2 linked regions of the Homo sapiens genome follow. Changing the gene in region 1 together with any one later gene gives a genetic interaction. Each region holds a gene or a part of one and is shown on either strand. Other genes may lie near its edges.

Region 1 (3,500 bases):
GAGTAGCAGTTGGTAATCCATGGAAAGAAAAGGAGGAAATTTCAAGAAGAGGGAATATCAAGTACGAGGGTTTTCAAAAAACTTGGAAAGCCCAAGAAACAGAGAAGGCCAAAGTGTGGCTAACACAGAGTGAGAAAGAAAACAAGATGAGGTTGGAGAGGCAACAGAAACCAGACCATATAAGATCTTTTAGGCATTGTTAAGGAATTTGCACTGTATACCAATTGCAATGGGAAGCAGTCAGTGGGTTTAACAGCAAGGTGAATGTAACTGATTTACATTTCTAGGAGAAATTCTGGGGGCTCTATGGAGAATATCTTTGATGGTGAGGAGACAGGAACAATGATGAGACCAGAAGGAGCAAGATCAGGTAGTAGGCTACTGCAAAAAATCCAAGAGAAAGAGAACAATGTCTTGGACAAGAGTTGTGAGAGCAGAAATGGAGAAAAGTAGATGCACTCAGGAAATATTTTGGAGGTAGATTATTCAACAAGCCTTGATAACAGATTTTGATGTGGGAAATGAGTGAGGAAAAAGACATAAAAAATAGTTCTAATCCTTTAAGGTTGCATGCAGATCAAATAGTGATACTTTAATTTTTTCTTTTTTATTTACTGAAATGGAACACATTCCTATTTTAGGTTATGTTCTTTAAGAACAGACAAAACTAGGTCCAATAACCATATCTTCAGCAACCAGTAAAATGCCCAGCACACAAAGATTATATATACACATTTTTTTTTTGAGACGGAGTTTCGCTCTTGTCACCCAGGCTGAAGTGCAATGGCACGATCTCAGCTCTCTGCAACCTCCGCCTCCCGGGTTCAAGCAATTCTCCTGCCTCAGCCTCCCGAGCAGCTGGGATTACAGGCACACACCACCACCCCCAGCTAATTTTTGTATTTCTAGTAGAGACGGGGTTTCACCATGTTGGCCAGGCCGGTCTCAAACTCCTAACCTCAGGTGATCTGCCCGCCTTGGCCTCCCAAAGTGCTGGGATTACAGGTGTGATCCACCACACCTGGCCTTCAATATATATTTCTTACATGTATGTATGAATACATAAAGAAACGTGAACAAATCTGAAACACTATAAAGCCATGAATAACAAAATTATAATATAATTAAAAGTAGGAAAATTCATACCTAACTGGAGTGTGTGGAGGAATTACATTCACCTCTTCATCAAGGTTACTTTTTCGTGGTGTTCTCTGTGTTTCAAAACTAAATAACAATAAGTGAAGTCATTCACATACTGAAAATTTACAATTTGTGCTTTATGCATCAAAAAAGCAGTATAATGCTTCTGTTGTCTCATAAAATCATATAAAATGATAACTCAATAATAGATAGGATAGAAAATAGATGACCCAGCTGCTGCTTAAATAAAATATTTTTCACTACTCTTTTTAATTGTGGGTCTCTTTCCATTATGTTTATGACAAAGAGGTATACCAATCATTAAGTCTTTTTTTAAAAGTGAAAGTCAGATGCTTTCTCCCTGGTGGTATTGATAACCAAGTTGTTCAGTATTAAAAAGCATTAAAACTCAAGTTTTTCAATGCATTATTCCTTCTAAAAACTTTATTTCCACTTAAATAAAATTTAAAACATTTTACTGTGTTTAACTTCTAAATTACGCATATTTTCAGTTTCATATTAAAAGAGTTCATGCTAAAGACACAAAATTAACTTTACTTATGATCAGTCAAAAATTTTAACAATCACTCTCAACCATTCCAATTTTAGGTTTCTACATGATAATAACAGAGACTACACTTTTGTATAAACTTTTTTAAATAAACCAGGCAGGCAATAGTATATGAAAGGATAGAAATAAGGTAGAGACCACTATTTGAAGAAACTAATTACTTTAGCCATTATCTTTTGGTGCACATTTTAAAAAATTATATTCAGTTAACTGCAAAAAGGTAACTGTTATAGGACACACAATTCACATTAAATCTATATTTGTAGATAAGTTATATGCTTAAAATACTGTTAAACTTTTCTTTGTATAAAGACATTTGAAAGTAATTTGTTATAAATGATATCTAAAGGTCACTAAGCTAAAGACTATATAATCTACCTATATCAGTATCAACCTATATCTAAAGCAAATCAATCAAATATACCATGTGCAATACCTGTCTATAGAATCAGTCTGAAGAGTTTTATCATGATCCAAAAATAATCTTGCATCTAGATCTTTATTTTTAAGATAAATTTCTTCGTATCGTTTAGAAAGATTTTCAACCTTGAAAGAAAAAAGTCACTGACAATTATCCTTTACATGTCATTACATCTCTCAGCACACAGAGGCACAGATTTCATTAAAGAATTTTTGTATAATATACATTTAATTTTGTAATATACACTGAGTTCGCATGCAATATAAATAAGGTCTATCTAAAAGTGAGGTACAGAAAATTGCAACATTTGTTCAACTTTGATTTTAGGTCTATTTCGTGCATAGAAAATATTTATTAGAATTTTATGTAGACAAAGATAGCCAATGCTACAAAACAGTACCTAAGATAAAAATAGGTATTATAATAACTGTTTAACTGCCAAGATTTTCCAAACATCCCATATATGCTTTACTTTTAATCTTTTTTTTTTTTTTTTTTTTGAGATGGAGTTTCGCTCTTTCGCCCAGGCTGGAGTGCAGTGGCACAATCTCGGCTCACTGCCACCTCTGCCCCCGGGGTTCAAGCAACTTTCCTGCCTCAGCCTCCCGAGTAGCTGGGATTATAGGTACCTGCTACCATGCCCGGCTAATTTTTGTATTTTTAGTAGAGACGGGGTTTCGCCATGTTGGCCAAGCTGGTCTTGAACTCCTGACCTCAGGTGATCCACCTGCCTCGGCCTCCCAAAGTACTAGAATTACAGGCGTGAGCCACCGCGCCCAGCCTGCTTTTAATCTTTTATGCTTATCAATATAAAATATTTTTTCAAACATTGTTGCAAATCCTCTTGATTACATATTCTACCAATGTTTTCTAAACCCTTTGGTTCACTCCAGTACCCTTCAGTTAAGTATCTTGGGCAAGACAATTAGCTCAATTTATCAGTTCAATTAACACACTTGCACAATTTATTCCCAATCTTAGATACTTTTTCAATTGCTAGAATTTGTAAATCTTTCATCAGTTCTGATCCATAATTTTTTAATTATACTTTAAAAACCAATGCCCAAGAGAAAACTATTGGCATGCCTTCTACTGTGACTTTTAACGCCAAAGTGATTCCAACCTCAGAGAAGTAAAATTGCATTTTAAAAGGAGTGATAGGAAGAAATCCAATTAAATGCAAACTTTTCATTAATCTTCATAAATGTATTAGATAGAACAGTAATCCATGCTTATGTTTAATCATTGTTCCTGTCCTACCTTAGTTGAGGCACTAATTACCAGTCATCTATTGATTGGCTATATTATGTGAAATATTGGAGAAAAAGTAAAATTACTCTTAAGATTTATATTAAAACTATAATCCTT
Region 2 (3,500 bases), on another chromosome or scaffold:
CCATACCTAGTTTTCTTTTTTTCTAAATAATAAGTGATCCTCCCACTTCAGCCTCCTGAGTAGCTAGGACTACAGGTGCACACCACCATACCCAACTAATTTTTTGTTTTTAAATTTTGTGTAGAGTCTCACACTCCTGGTCTCAAGCAATCCTCCTGCCTCAGCTTCCCAAGGTATTGAGATTACAGGAGTAAGCTACCTAAAGCTGTTTTTTAAAGCCATAACTTAAAAAAAAAAAATCAAACTACAGCCTGCAGCAATCACTGATGGTCATTCAGGTCACCCATTTAACAAGATCCCACTGAATTTTCCACCTTACATCATAAGTTTCTGATCATCAGCAACAGATCCAAACAATGACTCGTGCAGCAGGTGCCAGGCCACATCCTCTACAACAGCTGAGTGGCCAGTAAAGATGGCTTTAGCATCCACAATTTTGCCTTCTTTTGGTCCTGCGTTTATATCCCACAGACAAACAGTCTAAGAGAGAAGGAGAGAAAAAAAAAAGAACAAGGGCTATAAGAGACTGATTTTTTTTTTTTTCCCTCGAGACAGTGTCTCAGTCTGTCACCCAGGCTGGTGCGATCTCGGCTCACTGCAGCCTCCGCCTCCAGGGCTCAAGCGATTCTCCTGCCTCAGCCTCCTGAGCTGGGATTACAGGTGCAAGCCACCATGCCTGGCTCATTTTTTTTGTATTTTTAGTAGAGACGGGGGTCTCACCATATTGGCCAGGCTGGTCTTGAACTCCTGGCCTCAAGTGATCCGCCTGCCTTGGCCTCCCAAAGTGCTGGGACTACAGGTGTGAGCCACTGTGCCCGGTCAAGAGATTGAATTTAAATGCTAACATCTTATTTAAAATAATTTCATTACAAACAAAACTATTCAACTATATAAGTTTGAGGTAAACACAAGAGAGAAAATATAAGCAAACAGAAGAGTATGTGGCTGCAGCCTCCATGTGAGGTGCAGAGGAAAAGGACACTCCACTGTAATGAGGGGGAGGGGAGACTGAGTACAGTGGCAGGCAAGGACACTGATGCTGGAATTTCTACCTACATACATTCAGACATTCAAGTACCCCAAATTCACTTAGACAACACAACAAATCACCAAGAGCCCGGCGCTCAGCATCTACTGAACACAAATGCACATCCTAAAAGTTTACACTGGGATGGGAAGACTGGGAATTAAAATTAAACTCTGCCTCTCACATAGCAAAAGCCTCATGGACAAGTCTTTCACTTCATGGCAGAAACCACCACAGACATCAGGAGATGGGACAGGTAAACGACACTGGGCCAGAAACCTCTACTAGTCTACTCTGAGAGGTCAAGGCCTGGCGCCCACAGACAGATCCCCAATGATGTGCTCCTTGAAACGTCAGCAGAGCCCAAGCAGAGGCCATGGGGCCTCTGCTTGGGCCTCAAAGGTCACAGCAGCCCACAAATAAGGAGGCCTCATGATGTGGGCCTTGACATCCTATCACAGAAAGAGTTAAGAGGAAAGTTTTAATGAAAAAATATTGCAAGGTATAGGGCAACGATTCTCATTCAATAGTTAATAAGAAATAATACCATGAAGGTATATTAGCACTAATTATAGTTCCACCGACACTGGTATGGGTTTTTTTTTTTTTTTTAATTCATAGCACGTGATCATGAAAGGGCTTCATCTGTTTTTATTAAATCACCTTTTTTTTTTTTTTGAGACGGAGTCTCACTCTCTTGCCTAGGCTGGAATGCAAGGGCACAATTTTGGCGCACTACAACCTCCGCCTCCCGGGTTCAAGCAATTCTCCTCCCTCAGCCTCCCGAGTAGATGGGATTACAGGTGTATGCCACCAAGCCCAGCTAATTTTTTTGTATTTTTAGTAGAGACGGAGTTTCACCACGTTGGCCAGGCTGGTCTTGTACTCCTGACTTCAGGTGACCCACCCACCTTGGCCTCCCAAAGTGCTGGGATTCCAGGCGTGAGCCACTGTGCCCAGCCACATGAAGGACTTTCTGTAACAAAGCTATTTCCCAGTAATGGCTATTTTCCCAGTAACAAAATTTTTTTTTACACAATACATATGCCCTCAGTCTCTGTTGTTACTTACACATGAAGACACTCAATGTGTGTGAACTGAAGAGAAAGGAACATGTGGTGCTCCTGCCATTCACACTGACTCAGAAGGACCTGGCAAGATTAGCATGATGCTTGGCATGTGGGTAGCCCCTGGTAAATGTCAGCTATTATTATTACTACCAATTCCCAGCCTGGTCTCTTCAAAAGGTACTAGTAATTGGGTTACTGAGTACAATCCACTTATCCACTTTCCCTACTTGGGAAACCGTCTCATACACACTTTGAGGGAAGCATCCTTTCAGAGAGCCTATAATCCCAGCTCTTTGGGAGGCCAAGGAAGGTGGATCACTTGAGCCCGGGAGTTCAAGACCAGTTTGGGCAATACGGCAAAACTCCATCTCTACAAAGAATACAAAAATTTGCTGGGTGTGGTGGTGGGCGCCTGTAGTCCCACCTACTTGACAGGCTGAGGTAGAGAACCACTAGAGCTGGAAAGGTGGAGGGTGCAGTGAGCCGAGACTGAGCCACTGCACTTCAGCCTGGGTGACAGAGCAAGACCTTGTCTCAAAAAAAAAAAAAAAAAAAAAAAAAAAGTGAAAAGACAACAGAATGGGAGAAAATTTTTGAAAATCATAGGGACTTATACCTAGAATACATAAGAAACTCTTATAACTTGACAATAAAAAGACAAAATTAAAATATGGACAAAGAATTTGAATACCTATTTCTCTAAAGGAGATATGCAAATGGCCAGTAAGTACAAGAAAAGATGCTCATCATCATTAGTCATCAGGGAAATGCAAATTAAAACCACAATGAGCTGGGCGTAGTGACTCATGCCTGTAATCCCAGCACTTTGGGAGGCCAAGGCAGGAGGATTGCTTGAGCCCAGGAGCTCAAGACCAGCATGGCCAACATGGTGAAACCCTGTCTCTACTAAAAGTACGAAAATTAGCTGGGTTTCATGGTGCATGGCTGTAATCTCAGCTACTTGGGAGGCTAAGGCAGGAGAATCGCTTGGACCTGAGAGGTGGAGGTTGCAGTGAGCTGAGATCGTGCCACTATACTCCAGCCTGGGTGACAGAGACAGACTCCGTCTCAAAAAACAAACAAAACAACAACAACAACAACAACAACAAAAACCAACTCCCCACCCCCAAGCCAAAAACAAACAAAAAAAAACCCAGGAAATACCACTTTATGCACACTAGGATAGCTATAATAAAAAAGACAAGCATTAGTGAGGATGTAGAGAAACTGGAACATTTGTACATTGCTTGTGGAAATGTAAAATGGAAAGCCACTTTGGAAAACAGTTTGGTAATTCTTCAAAAAATTAAACAGAGATACCATATGATCCAATAATTCCACTCCTAGGTATATATCCAAGAGAAATAAAAACATACATCTACACAAAAACTTGTAAACAAATG

The links.
Region 2: changes in RB1 (region 1) and RBBP7 together harm fitness more than expected from each alone (negative genetic interaction), as found in Homo sapiens cells (one large-scale study listed by BioGRID).

What each region holds. Positions count from the first base shown.
Region 1 is NC_000013.11:48,366,251-48,369,750, reverse strand, and holds part of RB1 (retinoblastoma-associated protein), read right to left. Parts: intron 2,258-3,500; coding exon 2,148-2,257; intron 1,225-2,147; coding exon 1,147-1,224; intron 1-1,146. UniProt on the Homo sapiens protein: Tumor suppressor that is a key regulator of the G1/S transition of the cell cycle. The hypophosphorylated form binds transcription regulators of the E2F family, preventing transcription of E2F-responsive genes.
Region 2 is NC_000023.11:16,853,363-16,856,862, forward strand, and holds part of RBBP7 (histone-binding protein RBBP7), read right to left. Parts: intron 481-3,500; coding exon 320-480; intron 1-319. UniProt on the Homo sapiens protein: Core histone-binding subunit that may target chromatin remodeling factors, histone acetyltransferases and histone deacetylases to their histone substrates in a manner that is regulated by nucleosomal DNA.